Linked DNA regions of Homo sapiens: region 1 is linked to region 2. The links come from fine-mapping of genetic effects on gene expression. Tissue or cell type: whole blood. Region 2 holds a variant in brackets; the other region holds the start of a gene. All regions are shown on one strand. Distances are from middle to middle.

The links. PIP is the estimated chance that this variant, and not a neighbour inherited with it, causes the effect.
Region 1: it holds the start of HK1, and the variant in region 2 is fine-mapped to the expression of HK1 in whole blood (INTERVAL, PIP above 0.99).

The regions. Positions count from the first base shown.
Region 1 is chr10:69,315,829-69,323,828 of GRCh38, forward strand. HK1 (hexokinase 1) reads left to right here and starts at 3,019. Exons shown (of 18, transcript NM_000188.3): 1 at 3,019-3,182. The coding sequence starts at 3,120. RefSeq lists enhancers at 2,033-2,262, 3,553-3,602, 5,188-6,104 and a silencer at 2,573-3,252.
Region 2 is chr10:69,349,552-69,357,787 of GRCh38, forward strand. All of the region lies in intron 2 of HK1 (hexokinase 1), which reads left to right. Among named protein-coding and RNA genes, the nearest start is that of HK1, 35 kb to the left of the region's middle. The variant G/A (reference allele first, on the strand shown) is at 4,884.

The DNA.
Region 1 (8,000 bases), 34 kb before region 2:
CTGGGCATCAGGACTAGGCTGGAGTCCTGGCTCAAAACTCTACCACAACCTGACACTGGGCAAGATGGCCCACCTGTGGCATCCCAGGTTCCTGCCCTGTAAAGAGGAGTCTGGGTGTATATCCAGATGGACTGTGAGCACAGCCTGAGTTTGCCCTGTCGAGGTGCTGAGGCCTGGGAGATTGGGGTGAGTAGCTGTGGTCCAGGGAAGGTTGGCAAGCTGGGCCTTAGATGAGAGGGGATGCTTGGTCAGGCAGAGGTGAGTGGAGAAGGCAGGGCAAGGAAGGGAATATGAGCGGCGAACAAATGGAGTGGACATGGTGGGGGCAGAGGATGGTGGGAAGTGGCCTTGTTGCGGCCAGAGTGGAGGAAGAGATAAGTGGGAAAGAGTGGAGTCGATTACAGAAGGCCTCGGAAACCAGGCAGAGATGTTTAAATTGGCTCTCTCAGGAAGGAGAGGGCCATGAAGGGATTTAGGGAAGGGTCATGACATGATTATGCTGCATTTTAGCAGGATTAATGTGACCTGGTGCTCAGAATGACTTGGATGGCATGAGGCCAGGAGCCGAGGAGGACAGTTAGAAGACTCTTGTAATATTTCTGGCACAGGGAGATGGACTGGGAGTTGGGAGGTGGCAATAGGTCAGGCCTAGAGACATTTCTCAGGAAATATTGACAGGCCTTGGGGCCTGGTTGCATTCATGGAGTGGGGAGGAATGAGTCACCTTGAGAAGCAGTTTCCCTCTCAAAGGCCAGGGAAGACAAAGCAGAGGCAGCTTTCCTGCCTGCAAACAGGACATTTCAGGGTAACCTGGCTCTTCCAAGCGTCAGCTTCTCCCTGGCTCCAGCTCAGATAGGAGTTGTAACAACGGGTTGGGCATGGGTGATGGCACCGGCTGGTGGCTGGGTTAAGGGCCATGTTTTTGATTATGCATTAGGCTTATTCAGCCTGCCAAGTGCCAGGCCCTGCGCTTGTGTAGGAGACAGAGCAATTAGCAAAACATAGTCCTCCATCCTCAAGGAGTTTCCAGCCCTGTGAGCTTGGCAGATCTGCAGAACTCAAATGAAATGGCAGTTGAGAACAACCATCTTGTTCTCATTCACTCCATTTTGCTTAACGGCCATGTAGGTAGTTCCAAATGTTTGATGTGTACCAGAAAATCTCTCTCTTCCTGGTTTATAATTATGATCCAGGGCAAATCCAGGTTTTGTTGGGCTTGAAAATTAAATAAATTGGCACTCTCTATGGAAAATAATTCAAATATAAATATACAAATATCACACTGCTAGGCCCTCCCAGGGCCTAGAAGGGTAGGAATGAAAGTGAGAGTCCCTGAAGCTTTAACCGCATTAACTTTTCAGTCAGTTCTATGATACCTGCCATTCCTTAAGTGTGTATTATGTGCACGTATTTTGCGTACAGTATTACACAACAATCAAGGGGAGGTGAGGTGGGCATTAGTGTCTTCATCTTATGGATGAAGACACAGTCTCAGAGGTGATTCAAGATGCCCCTCTGCATAGGCCCTAAGGCAGGGGGTGGGGACTGTGACCTGGACAGGAAGCTGGGGCCTCAGGACTGCATCTAAGCTCCTCCTTTTCTGTGGGTGATGGTGGCTGTCAGGCCCCTGAACCTACGTCATCCCTCCCTCTGATTTGACTGTACCTTTGCTAGGCCTGGTCAAGGGCTAGGGACTCCTAAAGTCAAGAGCTAGGGTAGAGGTTGGGGGTTGGATCTCAGGGCACCATATGGTGCAGACTTGGTTGCAGGAAAGTGACCTATTTAGGCAGAGGGGCTCTATACAACTGGGACCACAGCAAACCCTAGAGGTGAGCACCTGCTTCAAAGACTCACAGATCCAAGCTGTGATCCTAGATCTACAACTTCCTGGCTGTATAAAGTCCAGCAAGACTGAGGCCTCACTGAGCTTCAATTTCCTTACCTGTCTAACCAGAATAGCAACAACTTGTTTGTATATTTGAGCTCATTACATGTCATTTTGTAAGGCACTAAAGCTCCTGGAGGCTTCCGGAACACAGAAATAATTAATCTAAGAATCCTAAAGTGGCTGTCCTGGTAGCACCTCTAGGGAGTCCTCCCATCCTACGTAACTTCCTCTGGGAAAGTAGAAAACACGGCACCTGGGAAGGGGCGCTGAACCGTGCCCCAAGTCCCAGTGGGCCTGGATGCCCAAGAGCAAGAGGAGGCCCAGAGGATGGGGACAGGCCACGACCTGTGGCCCAAGTCCCGCCCAGAGGGAGTGCGCCCTGAGGGAGAGCCACCGGAGCTGGTGACTCGGGGGCGGGTGCTCTGGGGTGTCGCTTTGGGTTCAGCAATACAAATCTGCCAGCTGGAGATTAGGCGGGGCACGCCGGGGAGAGGTGATGCACTGCCGCTGAAGACCCAGGTAGGCCGGTGCGTTCGGCCTGGGTGAGGAAGGCGCGGGACCCGGGTGCGAGGACTGCGTAGCGTCCCCGGCTCCCGCTTCCGCCCGCTTTCCACGCCCACTTCTGCAAGTCCCCTCCGGCACCTCGGCGTCCACCGGACTCCTAGGGGCGAGCCCTCATTTCCGAGGAATGGGACCGCCTTCGTGCCCCCGGGGCTGCCAGTCCCTAGACTAGCCCTAGGGGCTTCTCGTCCCGGCGGAGCCGGGCGGTGCCTCCTGCCTGCGCCTCGCACCTCCCCGCCTGGCACGGCCCACCCGGGCACGGCGCCGCCACGCGTGAAGGCCCGCATCGGCTCCCTACGTGGGGGACGTGCAGGATGATGCGGGGTCGGGGGGGATTTCGCTGCGTCGCCCGCCCCCTTTCCGGCGCAGGAGGGAGCGGCCGCCGCGTCCCCGCTCCCCGGCCGGGACGCCACCGCCGGGCGTTGCAGAGGCGCGCCGCAACCAATGGGCGTGGAGGAGGTGGGTCGGCTGGCGGCTGTCACCCTCCAGGGGACGGGAGCGCGGAGACCGGGAGCGCGCGAGCTGTCGCCGCGCCCCGGGCCGAGGGGGAGGAGCCGGGGGAGGAGGAGGAGGAGGAGCCGCCGAGCAGCCGCCGGAGGACCACGGCTCGCCAGGGCTGCGGAGGACCGACCGTCCCCACGCCTGCCGCCCCGCGACCCCGACCGCCAGCATGATCGCCGCGCAGCTCCTGGCCTATTACTTCACGGAGCTGAAGGATGACCAGGTCAAAAAGGTGAGCCCCCGCCCGCGCCGCCGCTGGTCCTGGCCGCAGCCTTGCGTTCCGGCATCCGCTCGCCGCCTCCGCTGCCTCCATCCTCCGGCGCCCGGCCTTCTCCGGGCCAGCATCGAGTTGGACTGCAGGGCGCAAGGAAAGCCTTCGCCTTCGATTCTACCGGCATTGTCAGTGTCTCTGTGTGTGTGCGTTTTTGGGAGGGGGGCAATCGGGCGGAAGACCCCCGAGACCGGGCTGCCTGCTGCAGTGTCCTTGAAACGGGCCCTGGATGTCAGATAGGCCCCCGGGCTGTGCGGGGAGGTGGCCGGTGGGCCCTTCCGCAGGGCCTGTTCGGGAGGGTCCGAGCGCCGTGGGAGGAGGTGTGATCATGGAGATGCTGGGGAGGTGATCGAGCAGCAGGCGGGGGTGCTGGCTGGAGGCCAGGCCTCCCATATTTGGGGTTCCTGGCGGAGGGTGTCGGGTGCCCCGGAGAAGCTGTCGCCGGGCTCTCCCAGTTGTTTGAGCTGCTCGTTAATCTGAGGACGAGGTGACCCGCCCGGCTTCCCGGAACGGGGAGGGGCGGCGAGGCCACCGGAAACTTTGCTCATAGGCCTCGTGTCTGGAGCGGCACGTCTGAATGGAATTTTTTATTCCTCTTAAGCTGTAATTTCTAGCCAGCACAGGAGCTCAAATAAGCGACTGGTCATTTGAGTTGGGTGGACGCCTGTGGCATGCTTGTTCTAGCACTTGGACGCATGCATCCTCCTGTCCTGAGGTGTTGTTGCCTTTGACATCTTAGTGTAAAATACTGTCCGCTGGCAGGTCTTAAAGGTGTATTTGTCTCTTCTGCCAGCTGTGCTACCATATTTTAAAGAAACAGCCTAAGCTGTAGGGAAAGACGCCCGTTTTATCAGTGCCAGGTCTGGTACAGGCTCCAGGCCCACCCACCCTGAACGTGGTGACGTTATTGCTGGGGTTAGCTGGGATGGACTGGCAAAGTCATCTTGACTTTGGCGTTCAGACAGGTGGAGTTCTACAGGTGAAAGGCAGGAGTGACAGGCCTTGATTTTCTGCCCGGCAAGCCATAGGGTGTTCCATCCTCTTCCTGTGCATCTAAGATGACTCCCTCATCTGGCACCATAGGAAACAGGCCTACTGAGGGCAGCGACCTTATCAAGGTCACCCAGTGAGTTAGAGGCAGAGCCAGTCAGGGGGATCCAGGTCTCCCAGTGCCTCCACCCAGGAACTTCACCAGGGTCCTCCTGGAGGTCAGCTTCCAGGAGGGAGTGGGTACTGAGAGACAAAGCCGCTGGGGACCCTGCCGTGATCTTGGATCCCATGGTGGGTGGGGACCGGGAGTGAGGTAGGTAGGAGATAGGCTTGGGAATGCCATCTGCCATTGCTCTTTATGGCTTTAAGCACTCTGGGGTTGTCAAACCGTGGCACTCGAAACACTTGCTCCTATGGAGCACCCTGGAGCTTCCCTCTGGCCACTGACCTGGGAGCTGTGCGTGCGGGTGTGTGCATTTCATGAGTTTTCTCTAGTGGTGTTGTGCATCACTGATGTTCTTCCCATTGGACCAGGGAGACAGTTCTCCCGGCATGGCAAGAAGTGCCCAGAACAGGCCTCCTGAAGCCAAGAGTTCACTGTCCTCCTGCACGTGGTGTCCTTTATAGCTCAAGACAGTGGGCTGCTGGGCTGGGGGGTGCCTGGGTGACCTTGTAAACCTCCAGTGTCCACACCCACCACCACCCACAACAGACTGCTGGCTGTTGGCTGCCGGTGGCCTCCAGCAGCTGAGCTGGGCTGAGGTTTGGACTCCATTCAGTGGGACATGTTTTCTCAGACATACAGTGTCTAGGGTGGGCCCAGAGCTCTCCACTCCTGTGGGTGGCTCAATTCACATCTATGGATGCACAGTCTATCTCCTAGGCCCCCGTAGGTACCTGAGTGTGTGATTCAGTTGACCCTTCCATCCCTCCTCACTCCGAGTTTGGGATTCTGATGTTCTTCCCTTCTCTTCCCCGAGAACCTTGCTGGAGGAAGGTCTTAAGGCCAAGGTTTCCACCAGATATTATTTGTCAAGGAGATTCTTAAAAACAAGATGTTTGCTTGCATTTCACCACGGACTTCCTATGCTGCTTTCTATAGGGGAGTACGTGGATTCCTGCCAGGGGGTCCACTCATTTTGCATAGTGGACTGTGTGGCACAGCCATCTGTGGGTGTGGTCCTGGCTATGATTGCGCCACCGCACTCCAGCCTGGGCCTTCTAAGGACAGTGACATAGTGGGTACTTGCTCCAGTGACCTACTCAGTTTTGCCCAAGTGTGCAGATGCTGGGGACCACATCTGCTCTTCTGGGGCCCAGGATTTCTTAGAGACCAGCTCTTTCCACGTACCACTCACCATAGGAAAGGCTAGGTGAAGGTGCGGGACCCCCTGTTCTTCCTGTGGGGCTGGACTCTGCCTGCCTCCCAGCAGGGACCTGCTGAGGATGGTTCCCCCCCAGCGTGGGCAGCCATGATGATTCAGCCCTCCAGCTGTAGGCAGCCTCCGGGGCTCTGGAGACAGACCTGGCATCCCTCAGTAACTCTCATCTATCTTCTTGCCCTCAGAGCCAGAGGTAGGAGAAGGGAAGCTGGGGACCATGCCGGGGAAGTTTTTGGGATTGCTTAGAATCCAAACGTGATCATGAAAATGGTGTCATTTCTTTCTTCATTGCCTATGAGGCACATCAATAATTCAACTCCATAAAAATATATCCTGGGTTGAAACAGTTCAGGTGTCTGACTTCCCAGCTTGGAACCCCATTATCCAGACGGCATCTGCATAAATTGGTTAATGGGTGCTGTTGAAGAGGGTGTACTGGCATTAGGCTGAGCTAAGCACAAAACACATATATTCCTTTCACTCTTCTAGTGCCTGTAGGAGGAAAGGGAGGCATATGTGTGCTTGTGAAGGATTCCATTCATCAGAATCCCAGACATCTGCCAGTTCTGCAGCTAGAGGCTGGGTTCTTTGACCTCTAAGTAACTTTAAACACGCATCTCATCTCGCCAGCTTCTTCCACTCGGTTTAGCCATTAGGAGCTTGGAGCAGGGTGAAGGATTGCATAGTGCTCTGTTTGTTTAGAAAGGGAAGATGGGTCCAGGAAGGTCAGAACTTGGCTTCTAAAGAAAGATTAGACTTCCTTTCCTCCAGGCTTGTCAGAATGGTGAGCAAATGCCAGTGGATTTTCTCTGGGCGAGATCCCCATAACGCTAAGTGATTTCCACTAGTAGGTGATCATGAAAAGGGTGTCATTTCTTTCCTCATTGCCTTGAGGCACATCAATAATTCAACTCCATAAAAATATATCCTGGGTTGAAACAGTTCAGGTGTCTGACTTCCCAGTTTGGAACCCCATTATCCAGACGGCATCTGCATAAATTGGTTAATGGGTGCTGTTGAAGAGAGTGTGATTTGTCCAATGGCCGAACTCAGGAGTCCTTGAGTACTTGACCCAGGAAGACAGGGGAGAGTAGGCTTAGCAATTAAAGGGTTGCCCAAGGTACATTCCTTAGAGCCTATGTGTTCCAGCTGCAAAAGCAAGCATTAAAAATAAATAAATAAATAAAAGGCCGATGTAGTGGCTCACACCTGTAATCTCAGCACTTTGGGAGGCTGAGGCGGGTGGATCACCTGAGGTCGGGAGTTCGAGACCAGCCTGACCAACATGGAGAAACCCCGTCTCTACTAAAAATACAAAATTAGCTGGGTGTGGTGGCGCATGCCTGTAATCCCAGCTACTTGGGAGGCTGAGGCCGGAGAATCACTTGAACCTGGAAGGCAGAGGTTGCGGTGAGCCGAGATCACGCCATTGCACTCCAGCCTAGGCAACGAGAGCGAAACTCCGTCTCAAAAAAAAAAAAAAATGCCCATTCATTATTGCTCAGGGGTGAGAGAGGTGATAGTTAGAAAATTGTGAAAAATCTGGCTGGGCACAGTGGCTCATGCCTGTAATCCCAGCACTTTGGGAGGCTGAGGCAGGTGAATCACGAAGTCAGGAGTTCAAGACCAGCCTGACCAATATGGTGAAATCCCGTCTCTACTAAAAATACAAAAATTAGCTGGACGTGGTAGCATGCACCTGAAGTCCCAGCTACTCGGGAGGCTGAGGCAGGAGAATTGCTTGAACCGGGGAGGCGGAGGTTGCATGAGCCAGGATCATGCCACTGCACTCCAGCCTGGGCAACAGAGCGAAACTCTGTCTCAAAAAAAAAAAAAAGAAAATTATGAAAAATCTGTGGGTTCTTGCAGTGGCAAAGAAAAAAAAGAAAAAATTATGAAAAGTCAGCCTGGGCAACAAAATTAAACCTCATCTTAAAAAAAAATTTTTTTTAGCCTGCTTTGGTGGCATGCACACACCTGTAGTCACAGCTACTCAGGAGGCTCATTGAGCCCAAAAGATTGATCCCAAAACAGTGAGCTGTGATGCTATGATTGTGTTACCGTACTCCAGGCTGGATGATAGAGCGAGACTCTGTCTCAAAAAAAAAAAAAAAAAAAGAAGAAAGAAAATTATGAGAAGTGTCTCATAACCTCTCAATTCTGATGTTGTACAAATATTCAGTGAGAGCTTCTTGGTGAATCTTGACTTTATAATCCCTGCCTTTCCTACCTTAGATACTCCTAGGGTTTCTCCCAAGAGAAGCCCCATCACTTTATCTGGTTGGATAGTTTGGGAATGTCATGAAGGAATAAACTGGCAGGCAGGGTGTCTGTGAGGTGCTTTCACATCTGGCCAAGCTGTGCCATGCTCCCACGCTCCTACTGTTCTCCGGAGAAGACATAGGCA
Region 2 (8,236 bases):
GATTCGCTGGCATCTCTGTGATGTTACAGGGGAAGGAGGCAGAGAAAAGGGGCAAGCCAAGGCAGGCTGTCTCACCCCCAACCCCTGAGCTAGCCACATAAAATGTGGGTGAGACCACAGGCTACAGCTCCAGTACCTCTGCAAGGGGGTGACTGGACACGACAGCTCTGAATCAGGGAGCCAACCCGAGGTAAAAGGGACTGATAGGTCCCTTTTGTTATGGAGGGCAAGTGGGTATTTGGGGGATTCATTTCCTGACAAAGAATATTGAACTAACCTGGAAACCTTCTGGTTGTAGCTGAAGGAAATCTGACTCAAATTTGTTTAAGAAAAAAAGAGAATTCTAGTTTCCTATAACTGGGAAGTCTCGCTGTGAGTTGACTTCTGTATCTAGGGATTCATCTGTCTCTTACTAGTTCAGTCAGCTCCTTTCCTGTGTGTTGGCTTCATTCATAGGCCATCTCTCCTCTTACAGTGGCAGGGACGGCCCCTGCAGCCCTAGGCTGACCCCTCCCCTTATAGCCAGCGATCTCTGTGCAAAGAGCAGGCCTTGCTCCCCATGGACCTGTGATGGTCTTGGAGAGGGCTGTGATTGGCTTACTTGGGTTATGTGCCCATCCTGAACCAATCACGATGGACAAGATGGGTGACTTGGGATGCCCCTGGATCCCATGCCTGGATTACGCATTGGTACCCCTGGAGCTGGAGTGGGGATTCAGCCCCACTTCCAACCTCATAGGTGAAAAATGGGAGGGTAGTTATCTAAAGAGATGCTGGACATCCAGGAAAGTTTATCAGTTATCTTGTTGTCCTTAACAGACATCATTCCTCAGTGTCTTTTGCCCGGCAGCGTATAGGACCAGCACTTTGGGAGGCCGAGGTGGGCGGATCACAAGGTCAAGAGATCGAGACCATCCTGGCCAAAATGGTGAAACTCCGTCTCTACTAAAAAATACAAAAATTAGTTGGGCGTGGTGGTGCATGCCTGTAGACCCAGCTACTCGGGAGGCTGAGGCAGGAGAATTGCTTGAACCCGGGAGTTGGAGGTTGCAGTGAACCAAGATTGCGCCATTGCACTCCAGCCCGGGCAACAGTGTGAGACTCCATCTCAAAAAAACAAACAAACAAAAACATGAAATAAATAAATGTTTAGGTGAACATTAAAACAGCAAATTAATTAAGTAAAATATTAAAATAAAAAGTACCGATCATTTCATCTCAGTGTAGTATTTGCTTTTGTGCCCCTTTTCCCCCTATGCACAAGTGGTTTATAGTTGTTTATCAGACTGAGCTTTCACTGTCTTCATTAGAGAATGAAGCAAAATAAAACCAAAGCTGGCCGGGCGCCGTGGCTCACGCCTGTAATCCCAGCACTTTGGGAGGCCAAGGCAGGCGGATCACGAGGTCAGGAGATCGAGACCATCCTGGCTAACACAGTGAAACCCCGTCTCTACTAAAAAAAAAAAAAAAAAAATTAGCTGGGCGTGGTGGCGGGCTCCTGTAGTCCCAGCTACTTGGGAGGCTGAGGCAGGAGAATGATGTGAACCTGGGAGGTGGAGCTTGCAGTGAGCCAAGATCACGCCACTGCACTCCAGCCTGGGCGACAGAGCGAGACTCCGTCTCAAAATTAAATAAATAAATAAATAAATAAATAAATAAATAAAACCAAAGCTAGGCCAGGCACGGTGGCTCACGCCTATAATCCCAGCACTTTGGGAGGCCAGGGCAGTCGGATCATCTGAGGTCAGGAGTTTGAGACCAACCTGGCCAAGGTGGTGAAACCTCGTCTCTACTAAAAATACAAAAAATGAGCTGGGCGTGGTGGTGGGTGGCTGTAATCCCAGCTACTGGGGAGGCTGAGGCAAGAGAATCGCTTGAACCCCGGAGGCGGAGGTTGCAGTGAGCCGAGATCGCGCCATTGCCGTCCAGCCTGGGCAACAAGAGTGAGACTCCGTCTCAAAAACAAAAACAAAAACAAAAAAAACAAAACAAAAAAACCCAAAGCTATAAGGAATCATGGAAGTTGAAGAGCCCCAGAAAAGAAGTGTAGCCATTCCTGATGTGCTGAAGTCTCTCTCTGGCCCCCACTTTCCTTGGGGATCCTTGTCCCTGAGTTCTGTCCAGGAGGCAGTTTTCATGGTTATACATTATGGCTTCGGATTCAAATGCTGACTCTGCCACTTACTGGTTGTGCGTTTGGGCAAGTTATCTAACCCCTCTTTACCTTTACTTGCTCATCTGTAGAATGGGCATCCTGACAGTACTGACTTCATAGGGTTGTGAAGATTGAAAATAAAAGGATACGTATAAGCACTTAGTGATTGGTACAGAAAGACTCAGTGAATGTTAGCTGATGGATGGTCAAATAAAATGTTTCTGATATTCTAGTGACTCACCTGCGAGGAGCTACTTCATACTGAATTCAATTTTTTCAGTTATTTCAATTTTTTTTTTTTTTTGAGACAGAGTCTTGCTCTGTTGCCCAGGCTGGAGTGCAGTGGCATGATCTCGGCTCACTACAACCTCCGCCTCCTGGGTTCAAGCGATTCTCCTGCCTCAGCCTCCTGAGTAGCTGGGATTACAGGCACCTACCACTACACCCAGCTAATTTTTGTATTTTTAGTAGAGACAGGGTTTCTCCATGTTGGCCAGGCTGGTCTCGAACTCCTGACCTCAAGTGATCCACCCGCCTCAGCCTCCCAAAGTTCTGGGATTACAAGCATGAGCCACTGCGCCCGGCTGAATTCAATTTTTTAACCTAGTGGTGGTGTAAAGTACTGTTGGAGTTAGGACTCCAATGGGAGCCCAAAGAAAATTCTATATTGATTTGAACAATGCCACAAAGTCGGGGTCAGAATTTCCACCAAATCTATGACACCTGCTTCCCAGCATTCTCCCTTGTTCTCTCTCTTTCCTTTGGACCACAAATAATTTAAAACCAGTGGCTTCATGTGATATATACATATAATGGAATATAATCGGTTCATAAAAAGGAATGAGGTACTGATCCACGCTACAGCATGGATGAGCCTTGAAAACCTTATGCCGGGTGAAAGAAGCCAGACACAAAGGACCTAATATTATACAATTCCACTTATATGAAATGTCTGGAATAGGGGCATCTGTAGAGCAGAAAGTACATTAGTGGTTGCTGGGAGATAGGGAGGTTGGGAGGAAATGGTGAATGGTTGTTAATGGGTATGGAATTTCTTTTGGGATGATGAAAATTTTCTAAAATTAGATAGTGGTGATGGTTGCACAACTCTGTAAATATGCTGAAAACCACTGAATTTTTCACTTTAAAATGGGTAAAAATTGTATGCTATATTATTATATCTCAATAAAACTGTTATTAAAAAAACAACCAACCAATATGTGAAATAATAAGAAATATACATGTTGGTCTCTGCCCCTAGTCTCTAGCATTTAGCTTCTAAAACCCTTGTAATTTCTTGAGCAATACAGGTGCTAGGAGAATCTTTGATCCTGGTCCTGACTCAGAGCTCCTAAATCCCTTGGAATTTCTTGGGTGATAGGAGAGTCTCTTTTGTTCCTTGGTGGGACCCTGGATAGCCTCAGGATGGGGGGCTGGTTGCCAGGGGGAACCAACCATGTGATCAGAGGGTTGCTGTCAGCCCCAACCCCCATGCCGCCTCCAGGGAGGGAGAGAGCCTGAAAATAGAGCGAATAAACCAATGGTCGATGATTTAATCAATCGCAACTGTGTAATGGTGCTTCCACAAAAACCTAAAACAGGCCAGGTATGATGGCTCACGCCTGTAATCCCAGCATTTTGGGAGGCCCAGGTGGGTGGATCGCTTGAGCCTAAGAGTTTGAGACTAGCTTGGGCAACATGGTAAAACCCTGTCACTACACAAAATACAAAAAAAAGTTAGCCAGATGTGGTGGCACGTGCCGGTAGTTCCAGCTACTCGGGAGGTTGAGGTGGGAGGATCGCTTGGGCTCTGGAGGTTGAGGCTGCAGTAAGCTGTGATCATGCAACTGCACTGCACTCCAGCCTGGGTGACAGAGTGTGACCCTGACTCAAAGAACAAACAAACAAAACCAAAAAAAAAAAAAAAAAGCAAAAAGAAGAAAACCTAGAATGACTGAGTTCTGGTAGCTTCTGTCTAGCTGAACACATGGAGGTTCCTGGGTGGCACATCTGGAGGGGGCATGGAAACTCCTGCCCTTTCTCCCATGCCCCTCCCTGTGTATCTCTTCCATCCAGTTCTTCATCTGTATTTATTGTAATATCCTTTATAGTAAATATGTAAATGTAAGTGAAGTGTTTTTTCTGGGTCTGTGAGCTGCCGTAGCAAACTAATGCAACCCAAGGAGGGGGTTGTAGGAACCCCGATTTATAGTGATCAGCCAGAAGCACAGGCCACAACCTGTGCTTGTGACTGGTGTCTGAAGTTGGAGGGAGGGCAGCCTCGTGTGAACGAGCCCTCGACCTGTGGGATATGATGCTATCTCCAGGTAGCTAGTGAAATAATTGAATTGAATTAGAGAGCATGGAGCTGGTGTTCACTGGAGAATTCACTGCAGAATTACTTGCTTGGTGTGTGGGGAAAAACCCACATGCATCCAGGGTCACAGGTGTGTTCTGTGTTGTGGTGAGTAGAGAAAAGGAAAAACATACTCTGGTTTTTCCTCTGTGTGTGTCTCACATGATGGCGTAACTGCTTTGTGCTTAATAAACAGCAAGCAGGGGTGCTGTATTAGTCCGTTTTCATACTGTTAAAAAGAACTGCCTAAGACTGGGTAATTTATAAAGGAAAGAAGTTTAGTTGACTCACAGTTCAGCATGGCTGGGGAGGCCTCAGGAAACTTACAATCATGGTGGAAGGAGAAAAGGCATCTTCCTCACAAAGCGGCAG[G/A]AAGGAGAAGTGCTGAGCGAAGGGGGAAGAGCTCCTTATAAAACCATAAGGTCTCATGAGAACCCACTCACTATCACGAGAACAGCATGGGGGGAACCACCTCCATGATTCAGTTACCTCCACCTGGTCTCTTTCTTGATATGTGGGCATTGTGGGGGTTACAACTCAAGATGAGATTTGGGTGGGGACACAAAGCCTAACCATATCAGGTGCCTTGAATGAATGAATGGACCACCAGTCCCTGTGACCAGGCAGCTAATGAGCATTTGCTGAGCTGTCCTGGGTGCCAAGGACAGAGAATCCCAAGTTGTGGTCTTTCCCTCAAGGAACTTGAGAACGAAGATAGGAACAGGCTGGGCGCAGTGGCTCATGCCTGTAATCCTAGCACTTTGGGAGGCCAAGGCAGGTGGATCACCTGTGGTCAGGAGTTTGAGACCAGCCTGACCAACATGGTGAAAACCCATCTCTACTACAAAATACAAAAATTAGCCAAGCATGGTGGTGGACACCTGTAATCCTAGGTACTCGGGAGGCTGAGGCAGGAGAATCACTTGAACCTGGGAGGCAGAGGTTGCAATGAGCCAAGATCACGCCATTGCACTCCAGCCTGGGCAATGGAGGAAGACTCCCTCTCAAAAAAAAAAAAAAAAAAAAAAAAGATAGGAACAGTGACATTCAATGTGAGAATTCCTTGGTTTGTTGTTTATTTCTTTATACCTTCATTAATTCCACAAGTATTTGCTCAGTTTTTACCTACATTCCAAACACCATTGTAAGTTCCAGAAATATAGCAGTGTGTCAGGGCTTATAGCTTGGTAGAATCAAATACAAAGATAAGTCAGCTTTATTGTTAAAAACAGAAAGCAAACCTTATTTTGTGTTGAAAATCAAAAGCTCAAGGGACCCAGAATAACCAAAGCAATCATGAAAAAGAAGAACAAAGCTGAAGGAATTTCACTGCCAATTTCAAAATTTTCAGCAAAGCAACAGTAATCAAGACATGTGGTACTGGCATGAAGGTAGACATGCAGACTAATGGAACAGAATAGAGAGTTCAGAAATAAATGCATACAGGCTGAGTGTGGTGGCTCATGCCTGTAATCCTAGCACTTTGGGAGGCCGAGGCTGGTGGATCACCTGAGGTCAGGAGTTTGAGACCAGCGTGGCCAACATGGTGAAACCCCGTCTCTACTAAAAATACAAAAAAATTAGCCAGTTGTGGTGGCACACGCCTGTAATCCTAGCTACTTGGGAGGCTGAGGCATGAGAATTGCCTGAACCCGGGAGGTGGAGGTTGCAGTGAGCCGAGATCATGCCACTGCATTCCAGCCTGGGTAGCATTCCAGCCTGGGTAACAGAGTGAGACTTTGTCTCGAAAAAAAAAATAAATGCATACATTACGGTCAATTGACTTTTGACAAGAATGCTAGGACTATTCAATGAGGGAAAGAATAGTCTTTTCAGCAAATGGTGCTGGGACACTGGATATCCACATGCAAAAGAATGAAGTTTGACCTACACCTCATACCATATATAAAATTAACTTGAAATGGATCAAATACCTAAATGTGGGAGCTAAAACTAATAAAACTCTTAGAACGAAATACAGGTTTGAATCTTTGTGACCTTGGATTTGGCAATAGAGTCTTAGCTACAACTCCAAAAGCACAAACAATAAAAGAAAAAACGTAAAACTGGACTTCATCAAAATTTAAAACTTGGCCATGCTTGGTGGCTCATGCCTGTAATCCCAGCACTTTGGGAGGCCAAGCAAGAGGATCACTTGAGCGAAGGCATTTGAGACAGCCTGGGCAACATAGTGAGACCTTGTCTCTAAAAAAAATTAAAAATTAGCCAGGTGTGGTCGTATGCCTGTAGTTCCAGCTACTTGGGAGGCTGAGGCTGGAGGATTTCTTGAGTCCAGGAGGTCAAGGGTGCAGTGAGCCATGATTGCACCATTGTACTCCAGCCTGGGCAACAGAGCAAGACCCTGTCTCAAACACAACAACAACAAACATAAAATGTTACTGCATCAAAGGATACCATAAAAAAAAGAAAAGACAATCCACTGAATGGGAGAAAATATTTGCCAGTCATATGTCTGATAAAGGATTTGTATCTAGAACATAAAAAGAACTTTTACAACTCAACACATAAAAGACAAATGAGGCCGGGTGCGGTGGCTCACGCCTGTGATCCCAACACTTTGGGAGGCCGACGCAGGCGGATCACAAGGTCAGGAGTTCGAGACCAGCCTGGCCAACATAGTGAAACCCCGTCTCTACTAAAAATACAAAAATTAGCCAGGCGTGGTGGTGCACGCCTATAATCCTAGCTACTGAGGAGGCTGAGGCAGGAGAATTGCTTGAACCCGGGAAGCAGAGGTTGCAGTGAGTCGAGATTGAGCCACTGCCCTCCAAGCTGGGCAACAGAGCGAAACTCCATCTCAAAAAAAAAAAAAAAAAAAAAAGGAAAAGATAAGCCAAGTGTTTAAAATGAGCAAAGGATCTGAATAGACATTTCTCCAAGTGGCCAATAAGCACATAGAAATGTACTCAACACCATTAGTCATCAGAGAAATGCAAATTGATAAAGAAGTCAGACTGTAATAAGTGTTGATGAAGACATGGAGAACTGAAAACTTCATGCATTACTGGTAGGAATGTAAAATGGTGCAGCTGCTTTGAAGAATGGTGGTAATTCCTTGAAAAGTTAAACATGGGTTACTATTTGACAGCGATTCTTGTCCTAGGTATATATACCCAAGATAAATGAAAACGTGTCCACACAAAAACTTGGGCACAAATATTCATAGTAGTGTTATTCATAATAGCCAAAAGGTAGAAACAAACCAAATGTCTGTCAGTAACAAATGAATAAATAAAATGTGTTATATCTATAGAGTGTAACAGCCATTAAAAGGGATAAAGTCTCATATGCACTATAACATGATGAACCTTAAAAACATTTTGCTTAGTGAAATGAGCCAGTCATACAAGGTCATATACCGTATGATTTCTTTTCTTCTTTTTTTGAGACAGGGCCTCGCTCTGTTGCCCAGGCTGGAGTGCAGTGGCGTGATCTCAGCTCACTGCAACCTCTGTCTCTTGGGCTCAAGAGATTCTCCTACCTCAGTCTCCAAGTAGCTGGGATTACAGGCTCACACCACCATGCCCATCTAATCTTTTTTGTGTTTTTGGTAGAGACAGGGGCTCGCCATGTTGCCCAGGTTGGTCTCAAACTCCTGAGCTCAAGCGATCCACCTGCCTCAGCCTCCCAAAGTGCTGGGATTACAGGCATGAGCCACCGCACCTGGCCACTGTATGATTTCATTGATATGAAATGTCCAGAAG